Regions from separate parts of the Homo sapiens genome. Here region 1 is linked to region 2. The links come from fine-mapping of genetic effects on gene expression. Tissue or cell type: testis. Region 2 holds a variant in brackets; the other region holds the start of a gene. All regions are shown on one strand. Distances are between the middles of the regions.

The links. PIP is the estimated chance that this variant, and not a neighbour inherited with it, causes the effect.
Region 1: RPP30 starts here. The variant in region 2 is fine-mapped to the expression of RPP30 in testis (GTEx, PIP above 0.99).

What each region holds. Positions count from the first base shown.
Region 1 is chr10:90,868,800-90,876,909 of GRCh38, reverse strand. RPP30 (ribonuclease P/MRP subunit p30) reads right to left here and starts at 4,936. Exons shown (of 11, transcript NM_006413.5): 1 at 4,842-4,936; 2 at 1,986-2,041; 3 at 1,296-1,352; 4 at 812-886. The coding sequence starts at 4,923. RefSeq lists enhancers at 4,626-4,685, 4,816-5,085, 4,804-5,098.
Region 2 is chr10:90,903,273-90,911,382 of GRCh38, reverse strand. It overlaps a transcript of RPP30 not described here. Among named protein-coding and RNA genes, the nearest start is that of ANKRD1, 14 kb to the left of the region's middle. The variant A/T (reference allele first, on the strand shown) is at 4,457.

The DNA of each region.
Region 1 (8,110 bases), 34 kb after region 2:
CTAGGGAGTAATCATCCTACACCCAATTAACCAATAAATCCCATCAATTCTCCCTCCTGGATGCCTCTTAAGTACCCTCCTTAACTCCCTCTAATCCATTCTCTGTAATTCAAACCTCATTTCACTCCCTTAGTTAAAACCTTCAAGGGCTTCCAACTGCTCTTGGAATCCTCACCCAAATTTATATCTTTAACCTTATGCCATGTAACCGGCTCACTAGGCTTAGCCCTATTGTTTTGTTTCACTTCCCAGAAAATACCACGTTTTCCTTAGCTTCAGGACCTATGCATAATCCATCCTATCTGGGAACATTAGCTCCCTGCTTGTCACCTATTTAACATTTACTGACTCTTCTGTCTCCCAGCTTGAATATCAACTTACTCAGGTTACATACTCCCAGAGCATCCTTTATTTACCACTTCCCTACCTTGGAACATTCCTTACATTTGTAATTATTATTTGTTCAGTGCTTGCCTTGCCAATTAAACTTTAAGCTTTATAAGTTCAAGGATTGTGCTATTATTCATGGCAATACCCCCCAGCACCCACCTTAAGTCTGGTGCACGTGAGTTCAATGAGTAACAGTTGCCAAGGGATTCTTTAATTGTGGTATCACTACACATGTGCCATGAGTAAGTGGAACAGACATATTACACTGTGTGAATTCTGAGGACAAGGAGAGCAAGCAGGTGTCATGGTTTGGCGGGGGCGAGGGAAAATGTAAAATGGGGAAGACAAAATGCAACATTGTTCAACATTAATCAATACAACTCACAAAGCCAAAAGGAGAGAAGAAAAATAATTAACTTACCAAAACATTGCAGTGAGATGGATCCGAGACAATAATTGTTAATCTAGTTAAAATTTTAATTGGTCTTGATTTTCCCTATTTAAAAAAGACATGATGTCAAAAAAGCACAAAAGACAATAATTGATTTTCCTTTTTACCAGTGGAAAGTATTCATTAAAAGGTACTGGCTATAAGGGATAGTGAAGATCAATAAAACCCAGTCCTTGTTCTCTAGGAATTTACAATACAGCCACAGAAAGAGATGTATATATCTTAAACTACATAACGAGATAATTTAAAAATTGTAGGACTTCAGGAAAGAAGATCATCAAAGCAATGCTGAATTGATAGTAAAAGAATGTTTCCTGAAGAGCTGAGCCTTGAGGAAAACGTTAAGACTGGTACTCAGAGTAAGGTGCAGCTCAAGCTAGAGAATAGCACAATAATTAGGTACCTTTTAACTGAATAAATAGATATTATGCTTCGTAAACAACAAAACACCTACCTGTACAATTGGCAAAGTTGTGAAGAGTTCAGAAACAGCTACTGGTTTTTCAATTTCCTACAACAAACGATAAATAGTTACTGCAGATTGTATCCATTAATAGCACAAGGCATAATGGAAAAATTACGAGGTGTTCTCAGAAAAAATATGCATTTTTTTTAAAAAGAAAGCAAGGTGATTTCTGGTATTCAAAAAAACTTTTAAAAATTATTTTTAAAAAGAAAGCTAAATAGAGAAGCAACTGTAAACATCAGTGAATAGGAAGAATGAAAACTAATTTTTAGACTGAAATAATCTACAGGATACAGTTGTTGGCCTAAAGAGAAATATACATACTTATTAGTAATGTTTAAGAGAGAAAGTAGTTAATAAGCCCATGACAATAGAATAAAAAGGACTAAATATTTTGATTACAGTCCAGCCAATAACAATGCACTTTTTGAACAGTGAAAAGTAACTTAATTTCAAATCACCTTTAAGAATCCTGAACACTATGTCATATTACCTCACAAAAATCATCATTGTATAAATATGCATCAGCTCGACTGTTTCTATATAAAATAGAAAAGTAGTAGTGCACAAAGGGGTGCATTTAAGAAATATTCTAATCTGTAGCTTCCAAATTACCAATACAAACAGAATTACAAATACTTATTTATGAACTTATTAACTTTAGAAATATTATTTTACCTGTTTCTTTTCCTTAAAGTCAACGATATGATTGATAGCAACAACTGAATAGCCAACTGAAAAAGAAAAATTGAACACTTTTGTTAAATATAACAACCTCTCCTTCCTGTAACACAGGTCCATCCTGAGTCTAGATGTCAAGAGTAGGAGGACATTTGAGGAGTGGTTATGAATGTGAACTCTAGTGTCAGTCTGCCTGATTTAAAGTCTATGCACTACCACTTACAAGTTACTTAACATGAAGTTTCAGGTTCCTCATCTGTCAAATGGTGAAAATAACAACACTTTCTTCATACACTGTCATGAAATTTAAATGAAATAATACACATGAGGTGTTTGAGAACAGTGCCTGGCACACAGGTCTTTGTTTAACCATTATGAATTATTATTAAAATGATACTAAAGACTCTTAACTTTGTGCTTCTCCTTTTCAAATGTCATTCTCTTTCATGACCCTATATTCATTTTTATCCCATCAAGTTCCTACTTTATCACTGTCACTTTTATTCCCGTTCATTTCTTTTGCTTTTTATCCTTCTACTTCCTTCAGAGACTCCTTTCCTAAGGAGAAATGGAGTGATAACTCCCTCACACCACTGCCCGCTTCCCATTTTAAGCTGCACACCATCGACAGACTGGGAGCTCCTTGAGGTCAAGGGCTTGCTTTATTATCCTCATCAGTTAGCACTGTTCTGGACATTTGGGCTACCAAAAAAAAATCTAAATCATGACTCCCATCTTTAATTTTTAAAAATACCAATGGGGATGAAAGGATATTAACATTAAAATACATATCAATGCCAAACTCTCAACAGTTTGTCCAACTTCCTTCTTCCCTTCCTCCCTCAAATATTTACTGAGCATCCATTACTTGACAAGCCCTAAACTGGTGTTGAGCATACAGGATAAATAATATAATCCTTCTCCACAAGAAATTTACAGCCTAGTCTGTTGGAGAACGAAGGCAAATAAGGCAATTAAGCAAGTCATTGTATATAAATACATGTTTTTTATAAGTAAGGATTCTATGGAAGTACATAGCACAGTGAAACCTGGTGTAGGGGTCACAAAAGGCTCCCTGAAGAAAGTTACCCTTAAAAACAAAAAAAAAATCACAAGTATGCCTGTACCTTGGGCTTCACCTTGCACCCAGTTAGTCAAATCAACCAGCCACACCTCCTCCCTATTCTTCTTTACCACACTCCCAAATCTGCTCTAAACTTCCTTGTTATACCCATTTAGGATATCCTTTTGGCTACTAAACAATGTCCCTACCGTTCTACAGAAATGTCAACTAGGATCTGTTTCTCCACAAAACTTTTTCCTAGACTACTCCTCATCTGGCAGCTTAGGAGTACTTACTTCCCCAATCAGGCTTTAGGGTATTTTAATTTACACAGTATATTTCTGAAGCTTATTATTGGTTTCTTGTATCACATCAGAAACTGAGAACCAGGGCTCTGTCTTTCCTATTCTTTGCAAATGTCCACTATTTAGTTCCAGACTCATCAAATAGCAGAGCAGTCCTTTGTCTTTGACTTGTAAGTTGAGGCAACTTTATATGCCATGAATTCCATTTAATTTACAAACAAATAACCACTAACAATGTACATATATTACCACACCTCTTCCAAGTGTATTTTAAACTGGGGGAAATTCTCTAAAGAAATCATTATTAACTTTTCTTTTTTGTATTAATTTTTTTAATGTGTTCAGTTTATTCCACAAGCATTAACTGAGTAACTGCCATGTACTGGTGCCTGCAGAGTGAACGTGTTAAGCACAGTAAATAAAAGGATAAGACATGGCAATTCTCTTAGGAAGCTCATGATTTATTCAAAAATGGGATGGCGTCAGGAAAAGCCTCATTGAGGAGGTAATAATTGCGACAAACTACACCTAGGAAAACTTATTTTACAGGATCAAAGAACATTAGCGCCAAATGGCCCAGATCATCATGTCTACTTTCGTCTTCGTGCTGATGAGCAAAGTACCACAGAGATAACGTTCATTTAGTGGCAGCAGTGGAAAGGGACAGTCATTTCGCCACGGATACTTCATAAAGAGAACAATAAAAAAGTGGTGTGATTCACTTTGCCAAGAAGTGGTTGTCATTTCTAGCACCACCTCTGAACAGTATCAGTAATCAGAACTCACAATGAGCTGAAAACTGTCTCTGAGGAGCAGATGTTACTACACGAACCTCTTGATTCTTTTTAATCTCTCTATTCCAACACTTTACAGTCTACGGAATACAGAACCCATGACTAACTCCAATAGTTAAAACAGGTTCTCGTCTCTCAAGGCTTTCGCTTCCCTTCGATTTGGGCCATGCTATCCTCCTCCTCCACCTCCACTCCGCTGTGTATGTCCTCTGCCCCCACCTACCCTCTCTCTGTCTAGATAGTATTGTTCCAACACTCCCACGTCCTCCTCCTTCTCCGAGCCTCCACGGCGCTTCCTGTCCGTGCCCCAAATTCCAGTATTTGTTTAGACACTGTCGTGAGAATCAGGAAGGGCTGATAGTAACTTAGAAGCTTAGAAGATTGTACCCTTGGAGTCCAGCTCCGGCTTCTGTCACCTATCAGCTGTAGGCCCCTATGCAAATCCCTCGCCCTCGTTAGGCCTCAGTTCCCTCATTGCAGGAAAGTAGCTGAACCAGATAACAACCCCCAGAACCTTCGAGTTTCCCGCGCTAGGAATCAGACCAACACCTCGGCGGGCATCAGCCTCCAGGGACATCCCAGAGACTCTGGGAGACCTGACCGAGACCCATCAGGAAATAGTTACTCCGGAGTGTGGCCCGATGGTCTGGGTGGCATGAGGTTGGCCAGGCGCGAAGCCGGGGCAACTCACGGTGAGCGGCTGTCTCCACAAGTCCGCGCAGAGCCTTCAGGTCAGAACCCGCTCGCAGGTCCAAATCTGCAAACACCGCCATGCTGAAGTCCCATGACCGTCCGCGCGCGCCAGTCTGCGCAGCCGCTGAGCCCGCCCCTCAGGCATGCTGGGAGCTGTAGTTAACCTGCGCAGTCCGTCTCTACCTCCAGTTGACTAGGGATTCGGAGAAACTTACTTGCTTTGCTTTCATCTACCACCAGAATTTGTGTGTTGAAATCAACAGCTTCATTTCAATCTCTCTTTGTCTTCTTCTGAACGACAATGTTTGGTTCCCCCTGGAGGGGTTCCAATTCCCAACTATTCAATACTCCTATAAAATAGTGTAGAAATGAATTCATTCAAAATGCACGCACACGGTATCTACTTAGTGCTGCTCATGAATCAGAGAATTCTGCTAATGGGTGAAAACGCTATTTAAAGAGTCTTAAAGAACACGTTTTCCTTTCCTTTCCCTAAAGTCCATTCCGTTGTTTACAATGGACTTACCGGGAAGAAGGCGTTTGTGTGTGACGGACTCTAGGACTTCAAAAGAGAACTACCCCAAGACGAGGGTCTTTTTACCCAATCAGAACTGTTGATGTCAAAGCCCGCTATTCTCTGTGGCAGTCAACATCTTCAACCACAAGATGGCGGGACTCGCTCTAGGACGAGCGGTTAGAGCCAACATTGATTTAGCCAAAGACATGTTTGAAAAGGGAGGTGCAAAATTGAGATGTTTTACACTTTTCCAGCTGAGAAATGTACAAGGTGACGCATATCCCACATATCTGATGTTTCCACTTTTTTCCGACTTAGTGTAAATGATCTATTGAGGATAATAATCAATTATACTACAAAAGTGTGACTATAGTTTACATCAGTGCTCTCAAACTACCTGTGATGAAGGATCAGTTTCTCCCTCCTTTTCCTCTACCCCCAAACTCTTCGCGAACCAGGATGTGGTCCTTTATGCATTACCAGTAAGCAGCCTGGCCTCATGGGAATCACAAATTTGACAACACTCGAACTGCCCTATACCTGGCTGAATAGAATCTGCTGATCAGGAGCTTGGATTATCAGGACAATGCCAAAGTACTGTAAACTTTCTAAACATCTTCACTTTTTGTTTGTTTGTTTGTTTTATTAACGTGCGCACAGCAACAACAATCACAGAATTAGAGGCTCGGTCATTTGACCTAGGGAGTATCCTAGTTGGTGGCCTGCTGAGTTTTCGTTTCGTTTTGTTTTGTTTTTAGAGAGAGTATCTCGTTATTGACCAGGATGGACTCTAACGCAAGCAATCCTCTCTCCTAGCTGTGATTACAGGAGCCCACCCACATGCTTCACCCATCAATTTCTCTTATTTACTGATCACAAACAGTTCACAGATAGTCTCTCGTCTATGGACCACACCTTAACTAGTACTCCTTTATGCGATTTTCTTGTCGGTCTCAGAAGGGAGGAAGGATCTGTTCCATGCAGTAGCATGCAATTCTCTTCTTGGTTAACTTTTGTAAAGAAGAGATATTTTGCCTTTTCCAGTACTTGATATTTCCTAAGTGGGAGTAGAAGAGAATATTACTTCTGCAAATAGAATAAGGTCATATGAAGCAAACGCTTTGTTTTTCATGAGAATATCTAGTGTTAATTTTGCAGGGTCACACAGGCATCATCACCTATGACCATAACAATCTAGATTGGTCAGAAATATGACCAATGTGTGGTGAAGGTGAATAAGGTGATAGTTCAATTATTTTTTCATTTTTAGTTGACACATTGTAATTATACATATTTATAGGGTACAATTTCATGTTCTGATACATGTATATGTTGTATAATGAACAAATCAAGGTAATTAGCATATTCATCACCTCATGCATTTTTGGTGATAACATTAAAAAAAACTCTTCTAGCTGTTTCGTGATATATAAACAATACCTTACTGTTAACCATAGTCACCTTGTGTGCAATACAACATCAGAACTTATTCCTCCTATCTAACTTTGTACCTGTTGACCAACCTCTCCCCATCCTCCTCCCTCAATCCCTCCCTCAATACCAATCAGTTGGCTATAGGTGCATGCATTTATTTTTGGTCTCTCTATTCTGTTACATTATTGGTCTATGTGTCTGTTTTTCTGCCAGTACCATGCTGTTTTGGGTACTATAGCTTTGTAGCATATTTTTAAGTCAGGCTTTGTGATATCTCCAGCTTTGCTCTTTTTGCTCAGGACTGCTCTTGCTGTTTGAGGACTTTCGTGGTTCCACACAAACTTCAGGATTTTAAAAAATATTTCTGTGAGGAATGTCATTGGTATTTTCATAGGGATTGCATGGAATCTGTAGATCGTTCTGGATAGTATGTCTACTTCAACAATATTATTTCAGTTCATGAACATGGGATATCTTTTCACTTATTTGTGTCATCTTTATTTCCTTAATTTTTTTTATTGTACAGATCTTTCACCTTCTTGGTTAAGTTTATTCCTAGGTATCTTTTTTTGTAGCTATTGTAAATGGAATTGTTTTCTTGATCTTTTTAGATAGTTCCCTATTAGCATACAGAATGCTACTGTTTTTTTGTATGTCAATTTTGTATCCTGCAACTTCACTGAATTTACTTGCTAGTTTTAAATGGTGGAGTTTTTTTGGGGGAGCCTTTAGGGTTTTCCATGTATAAGATCATGTTGTCTGCAAACAGTAATGATTTGAGTTCCTCCTTTCCAATTTGGATGTCTTTTATTTCTTTTTCTTGCCTAATTGCTGTGGCTAGGAGACTGTTTAATTATCTGATGCTAGTATGAGACTAAAGTGGGCTTCTTTGAAAGTCACAGAACTTTTGCTGTGGACTGTACCATATAAACTTCTTTTCTTCTCTGCACCCTAAGCCTGGGTGAAGAGGAAGAGAAGAGGTAAGAAAGAATAGGAATAGATAACAATCAGTATTTAGCACTATACTGAGGGCCAGCGAATTTGCTAAGTACTTATGTATGTATCTTATTTTCAAAGCAGCTGTGTGTTAAATGCTGTTTTTTATTTTTGTTTTATTACTGTTTTCAGATCTAGACTTGCAGAAGTACTGTTTTTTACTTTTTGTTATTTTGTTTTTAAAATCAATATCCATTTTTTATATCTGAGAAAACTAAGGCATTATTAGTGGTAGAACTACATGTGGATGGAGGCAATTTGTTTCAGTTCTTGCCTAGTGTACTGCTTCCTGAGCAAAGCAAGCAGAGACTAGAGTTGTT
Region 2 (8,110 bases):
GAATAATGGCCTCTAGCTGCATCCATGCCCCTGCCAAGGACATGATCTCATTCTTTTTATGGCTGCGTTGTATTCCATGGTGTATATCTACCATATTTTCTTTATCCAGTCTATTATTGATGGGCATTTGGGTTGGTTCCATGTCTTTGCAATTGTGAATAGTGCTGCAATGAACATATGCATGCATGTATCTTTGTAGTAGAATGATTTATATTCCTTTGGGTACATACCCAATAATGGGATTGCTAGGTCAAATGGTATTTCTGGTTCTAGATCTTTGAGGAATCACCACACCATTTTCCACAATGGATGAACTAATTTACATTCCCACCAACAGTGTAAAAGTGTTCCTATTTTTCTGCAACCTTGCCAGCATCTGTTATTTCTTGACTTTTTAAGTAACTGCCATTCAGACTCCATCCATCTGACAAAGCTCTAACATCCAGAATCTACAAGGAACTTAAATTTACAAGAAAAAACAACCCCATCAAAAAAGTGGGCAAAGCACACGAACAGACACTTCTCAAAAGAAGATATTCATGTGGCCAACAAACATCTGGAAAAGAAAGCTCAATATCACTGATCATTAGAAAAATGCAAATTAACTGGAGATTTAACAATTCTTGTGGACAGGGACTGGCAATGTCAAAGACTTCCCAGGAGAGAACACACAGGTCCATGATTTTTGACCTCCAGACCACCATAATAAAACTAATATCACAATAAAGTGAGTCACAATTTTTTTTGGTTTTCTAGTGCATACAAAAGTTATGTTTACATTATCCTGTGGTTTAATAATTGTGCTATAGCACGATGTCTAAAAAACACTGTACCTACCTTAACTTAAAAATACTTTATTGCTAAAAAAAATGCTAATGATCATCTGAGCCTTCAGTGAGTCATAATCGTTTTAATGGCGGAGGGTCTTCCCTCCATGTGGATGGCTGCTGACTGATGAGGGTGGTAGTTGATGAAGATTGGGATGGCTGTGTCAATTTATTGAAAGAAGACAACAATAAGCTTACCACATCAATTAACTCTTTCATAAAAGATTTATCTGTAGCATCTGATGCTATTTGATAGCATGTTACTATCAATAGAACATCTTTCAAAATTGGAGTACATCCTCGCAAACCCTGTTACTGCTTTATTAACTAAGTTGATGTAATATTCAAAATCCTTTTTTTGTCATTTCAACAATGTTTACAGCATCTTCACTAGGAGTAGATTCCATCTCAAGAAACCACTTCCTTTGCTCATCCATAGGAAGCAACTTCTCAGCTGTTCAAGTTTTATGACAAGATTGCAACAATTCAGTCACATGTTCAGGCTCCACTTTTAGTTTTCTTGCTATTTCCACCACATCAACAGTTACTTACTCCACCGAAGTCTTGAACCCCTCCAAGTCATTCACACAGGTTGGAATTAACTTCTTTCAAATTCCAGTTAATGATATTTTTACCTCCTCCAATGACCCACGAATGTTCTTAATGGCATCTAGCATGGTGAATCCTTTCCAGAAGGTTTTGAATTTATTTTGCCCAGATCCATCAAAGGAATCGTTATCTACGGCATATAGCCTTATGAAATGTGTTTCTTAATAAGACTTGATTCAAAATGACTCCTTGATCCATGGGCTACAGAATGGATGTTGTGTAAGCAGGTATGAGAATAACATTCATCTCCTTGTACATCCTCATCAGATGCACGTCTCCATCAGTCTTGGGTGACCAGGTGCATTTTCAATTAGCAGTAATGTTGTGAAAGGAATATTTTTTTTTCCTGAACAGTAGGTTTCAATGATGGGCTTAAAATATTCAATAAACTATGATGTAAAAAGATGTGCTATCATCAAGGATTTGTGGTACAATTTATAGAGCACAGGCAAAGTAGATTTAGCATAATTCTTAACAACCCTAGGATTTTCAGAATGGTCAATGAGCATTGGTTTCAACTTAAAATCACCAGCTAACAAGGGAGTCAAAGCTTTGAAGCTTTGAAGCCAGGCATTGACTTCTCCTCTCTAGCTATCAAAGTCCTACATGGCATCTTCCAATAGAAGGCTGTTTCATCTACATTGAAAATCTGTTGCTCAGTGTAGCCATGTTAATCAGTTATCTTAGCTAGATCTTCTGGATAACTCGCTGCAGCTTCTTTCTTCTATCAGCACTTGTGCTTCACCTTGCACTTTTATGTTACAGAGATGGCTTCTTTCCTCAAATCTTATGAACCAACTTCCGCTGCAGTTCTCCAACTGTTTTCAGCAGCTTCCTCACTTCTCAGCATTCATAGCATTGAAGAGTTAGGGCCTCTGGATTAGGCTTTGGATTAAGGCATTATTGTAACTGGTTTGGTGTTCTATCCAGACCACAAAAACTTTCTCCATTCAGCAATAGAGCTGTTTTGCTTTATCATTTGTGTGTTCACTGGAGAAGCACCTTTAATTTCCTTCAAGAACTTTTCCTTTGCATTCACAACTTGAGTGAGAGGCATAGTTTTCAGCCTATCTTGGCTTTCTACATGCCTTTCTCAATAAGCTTAATCATTCCTAGCTTTTGATTGAGAGAGATGTGTGGTTCTTCCTTTCACTTGAACACTTAGAGGCCATTGTAGGGTTATTAATTGGCCTAATTTCAATATTGTTTTGTTTCAAGGAATGGGGAGGCCTGAAGAGAGGGAAGGAAATGGGGAAAGCTGGTCGATGGAGGAGTCAGAACACACACAACATTCATGGATTAAGTTCACTGTCCGATATGAGTGCAATTTGTGGCTACCTAAAACAGTTATAATAGTAAAATCAAAGAACACTAACCAACAAAACACATATAATAATAATGAAAAAGTTTTTAATATTGTGAAAATTACCAAAATGTGACATGAGCGAGACAGGAAACAGGCACATGATGTTGAAAAAATGGCACCAATAGACTTGCTGGTTACAGAGGTGCCACAAATCTTCAACTTGTAAAAAATTCAGTATTTGCAAAGCACAATAAATTGAAGCACAATAAAAGGAGGTATGCCAGTAGTTCTTGGCCAGGTGCTAGGCCAGGTCCTAAGACCTGTGGTAAGAAAAAGAGATTGTCCATGACATGCCCTCCTGGAAGAGATGAATATTAAAGGAATAATGAGGAATAAATACATAGTCATGTGCCACAGAATGGTGTTTCGGCCAACAATGAACCACATATACAAAGGTGGTCCCATAAAAATAAAATGAAGCTGAAAAATTTCTATTGATAGCAACATCCTAGCTGTTGTAACATCATAGTACAGTGCATTACCTTTTCTATGTTTGTTTAGATACACAATATACTTACCACTGTGTTATAGTTGCCTACAGTATTCAGTACAGTGACATGTCGTACAAGTTTGAAGCCTAAGAGCAATAGGCTGTATTGCTCATATAGCCTAGGTGTTTAGTAGGCTGTATCATTTAGGTTTGTGTAAGTAACACTCTGTGATGTTCACACAACAAAACCGCCTAATGATGCACCTTTCAGAACGTATCCCTGTCGTTAAGTGAGGCAGTAAGTGCACAGTATCTGTCTGTTGTAAATACGATGAAGGAAACAATACAGAGTGTCTAAGATGATGAGGCTTCTATAAAGACTTCTTTGAGGTGGTAACCTTTAGGGTTTGTCTGAAAGGTAAACAGGAGTTATTCAAGAATCAAGTGTTCCAGGTAGCAGGAACACTGCTCTATGGAATACAGCAAGGATATGAGAAATGTTTGGCACTTGTGGAAATACATGAAAGCCAGTGAAGTCTGATGTAAAACACTAGCACCAAGAGACCCATTTTGGATAAGATCATATATGTTAACCTCTTAGATATGCCTCTAACTATCTGGGAGAGTGTATACGCATAGTCCATAACCAGAAGGTCTTCCAGTTATCTGGTCATAGACACATATAGAGTTGTGAGAATGGTTTGAAATATTTTTGTACCTTTTCTGTCTAGTACTAATCCAGGGAGTCCACCTCCCACAGGCATTGGGGATTTCATTGTTATCTCTCTGACTCCCAATCTTGTTTGTTGGCCCCTCTACCTTCCCCACAGGGGTCCTGGCTTAAGTTTGTCAGACTTTTAAGGCTCAGGGTCCTTCAATTTCTTCCAAGTGAAACATCTACAACACAGACATTTCTCTTGCCAGTGCTGATGTCTCATGTGGCATAACTTCAACGTGTTACCACCATGTGACCAACTTTTCTTTATGGTATCTGCCTCAAATCCACCTCCCCTAAAGAGCTGGGAGGGTACACGAGAGAAGAGAATAAAGAGTTAAAAAGTTTTATGTTGCCACATATAAATATTTGCACTAATAACTAGGTAGAGGGCATGAGAGACAATATGGAATAAATCCCATTAGAATTAAGACAACTCTTAGTTATTTCTGCTAATGGAAAAGATAAACACGTTGGGGGAAATTTTTAAGTTTTTAATCACATAGTCA[A/T]TTTTTTTATAAGGTTCTCTCCTTGCCTTCTCACTGACTCAACTCTTTGCCCACAATCTTTCATTTTGTGTTTGCTCTTCAGTGAAGGGCACACCACACTGGCCAATGGAGAGTCCTAGAAGTTGTTTTTGACCTTCTTTCCCTCATCCTTCTCTTTTAAACAACCAGGTCTTACCAAGTATACTACATAAGTAGTGCTGTGATCTGTCCATGTTTTCCAATCCTAGGTGCCTCTGCCCTAGTTCAGGTCACCATTACTTCTCATCTGGATCAAATAGCCCTCCTAGGCTCCTGGCCTCCAGGCTTGCTTACCTCCAGAATGTTTTTCAAGTTGCAGATAGAGGGATTTTTCTAAAATGCAATGCTGATCAACTCACTCTCCTCTTTCAACCCTTCGATGGCTTCACATTTCTCTCAGGATGAAATAAAAACTCCTAAAAATGTCTTATAAAATCCTTAAAATCTGGCTGCTGTTAACTCTTTATTCTTATCTCTCATAACCTTCCTAGCCAAACTCTAAATTTCAACTCAACTAAATTTTCAGTTCCTTAAAAAATCCAGGCACTTGCTTTACTGTTTTCACATACTGTGCCAGCTCCCTGGAAGACTCTTCTTCCCACTACAGCCCACTCCACGCCATCACATCACTTCTCATTCCTCCCCTTTGTTCTAGCTGTATTTCCTCCAGGAAGCCATCCTTGAGTCCTTAGATTCTATTAGTTCCCCCAAGGTGTCTTCCTGTTGTACTTTGCTTTTTCCCCATAACATCTGTCATACTTCCTTCCCCCTCCTCTTGAACACCCAATACTCATTATGCCAATACAGAAATGAGTAACAAAGGAAGCAACACATCACCAATAATCCTGGTTTCATGACATTCTGATTATTTCTGTGCACATTATGGGTATTGTGTATTTAGCTTTACAACTTCAACTGAACAACTTATTCTAGACATCTTTATAGACAGTATTCTTTTAATGTACAATGAATTATTTAATCCTGTTATTATTGGGTATTTAGGTTGTTTCCATTTTCACATTTAAGACATTGTTGCAGTGAATATCCTTATCCATCCACCCTTTATAATTAACCAGTTATTTCTGAAGAATAAATTGACATCAAAAGTATAAGACTTGCATCAAATTGTATCTCCCTCCACACCATCTTGAAAATACCCACTTTATAAATCTTTTTTTCTTTTAACTTTCAACCTGATCAGCCAGATATATTTGTGGTGATTTCCCCCTAAATGACTAGGAAAGTTCAGCATCTTCATGTTACTGGACATTTAAAAAAATCAACTTTATTTGTCCAATTTTCTAAGTCAGGTCTCCTGGAAGCAGCATTTCAAATTAGGATTCTTGTGTAAGTGACTTACTGAGAGTCCTCTATAAGGGAATGAGAAAAAACAGAACAGGGCAGAAGAGGCAAATATGTGGTTTCAGGAGAAATCCACACACAGCGTAATCCCATGGGGTGCTCAGGAGCATAAATTGTACCACCGAGGCCAGTGGGCCAGGCTGTAATGTCCTGCATCAGTCACTGGCCATGGGCCAACCTCAGAGGAGACAAAACTTCCCAGGTATCTTCAGGTAAAGTGACTCTCATCAGCCCAGGACAATCCTCTGGAAAAGGGTGAAGATAAGTCATTAGTACCCAACATCTGAAGCACTGGCAATATAGGTACACCACCCTGGGAATGGGGATCTCTATGGATGCTAACAGCATGTCATGTTGGGTATTTAAAAAAAAAAAATTCTTAAAAGCTAAGCATATGAAACCTTCCTGGAATATGTATTGTAAATGTACTTTCCTACTTGTTGTTATGTAGAGACAAATCAATCAAACTTTGTTTTCTGGCTTTGATGACCATGCTCGGCAGGTCTATTGCAATCCAAGATTATTATTTTTTTAATTAACTTACATTTTCCTCTAGTATTTTACAAGTTTGTTAAAAAATTTAAATCTTTAATCTACCTGGATTTACTATGGGTGTGTATTGGGTGTGAGATAGAGATTTGACTTAGTTTTTTCCTAAATGATAGCTGACACTTCAATATTTAAATTAATATAATGAAGTAATAAATAATAAAATAGTTGGTACTTTCTTTTTTTTAGACAGAGTCTCATTCTGTCGCCCAGACTGGAATGCAGTGGTGCGATCTCAGCTCAGTGCAACCTCTACCTCCCGGGTTCAAGCAATTTTCCTGCCTCAGCCTCCCGAGTAGCAGGGATTACAGTCATGGGCCACCATGCCTGGCTGATTTTGTATTTTTAGTAGAGACGGGGTTTTGCCATGTTGGCCAGGCTGGTCTTGAACTCCTGACCTCAAGTTATCCGCCCTCCTTGGCCTCCTGAAGGGCTGGGATTACAAGTGTAAGCCATGGCACCCGGCTGTAGTTGGTACATTTTATATGACAGGCCCTGTTCAAAGTAAGCCTTCCACAAATACTAACCTACTTAATCCTTGCAATAATGTGACAGGTAGGGAGAACAGATGAAGCGAGGCACAGAGAGGTTACATAATTTGCCCAAGGTCATAGCTAATGAGTACTAGCAAGTAGGGCTTTAAATGCATTTAGTTTTTCTTTCCCCTATGCACTTAACTGGTATGCTGTACTGCCTCTCCCAAATAGATAACCAATTATTTCAGTATCACTTACTGAACAATCAATCCATCATTTCTTCTTATATCTAAAGTATGATCTTGGACTTCCTGCTCTTTTCACTGTTCTGAATTTCTGCACCAATTAGTTTTAATTACAGTACTAGAGTTTTGTTATACTCTGTAATATTCAGCATTGTAAGTCCCTCCCATTAGGTTTTTTCCTGAAATTTCCAATTCTCATATTTACTCTTTCAGAATACCAAGTCCAAAGACCAAATACATAAACAAGAAAACAAAAAATACTTATAAGCATTTTGATTTTAAATTTTGTTAAATGCGTAATTTGGGGGAGAATTTGATTTACAATTTGTCTTATTCAAGAAAACAGAATGTCTCTTTCCATGTATTCTAGTCTTTATTTTCCCTTTATTCTCTTATTACTTTCATTAAGTTTTCTTTATAGAGGCCCTACACATTTCTTGGTAATTTATGTCTTTGTGAATAGTGTCATCTTTTAAAATTATTTAACAGGTTATTAATCAAAATCTGGTTTTTGTGTATTTATACAATTGGCCACTCTGCCAAACTTCATCTTGGTTTGGCAGAGGTATTGGCATCTTGTAGCAATTAAATTAGTGGTTCATTCTAACGAAAGTAAATATTAGAAGGAAACTTGCCTCTGCTATTCACTGGTGATCAGCCATCATGCCCTACTATCATGAACAATGGCATAAACATGTATGAATAGAAAGCACGCACAACTGCAAACACATACTACACAAATGTGTAGTAAATGGACGTAAGCTGAAAGGTACCTGTATTTCTACTTTTTTCCCATTTATTTCACGAGTTTTCCAAGACAGTCGTATCTGCAAATAATTTTACCTCCTTTCTATAACATGAAAATCTTACTGTATCTGGTGCAACTGTAGCTGGTACATCACTAATTCATAAATTAAGGTGGGACGTCGCAAAAAATTGAACATACATCCTGTTAAGCATTTTAAGCTTAAAATAGATAAATGTATACTTGGGTACCAACCTTT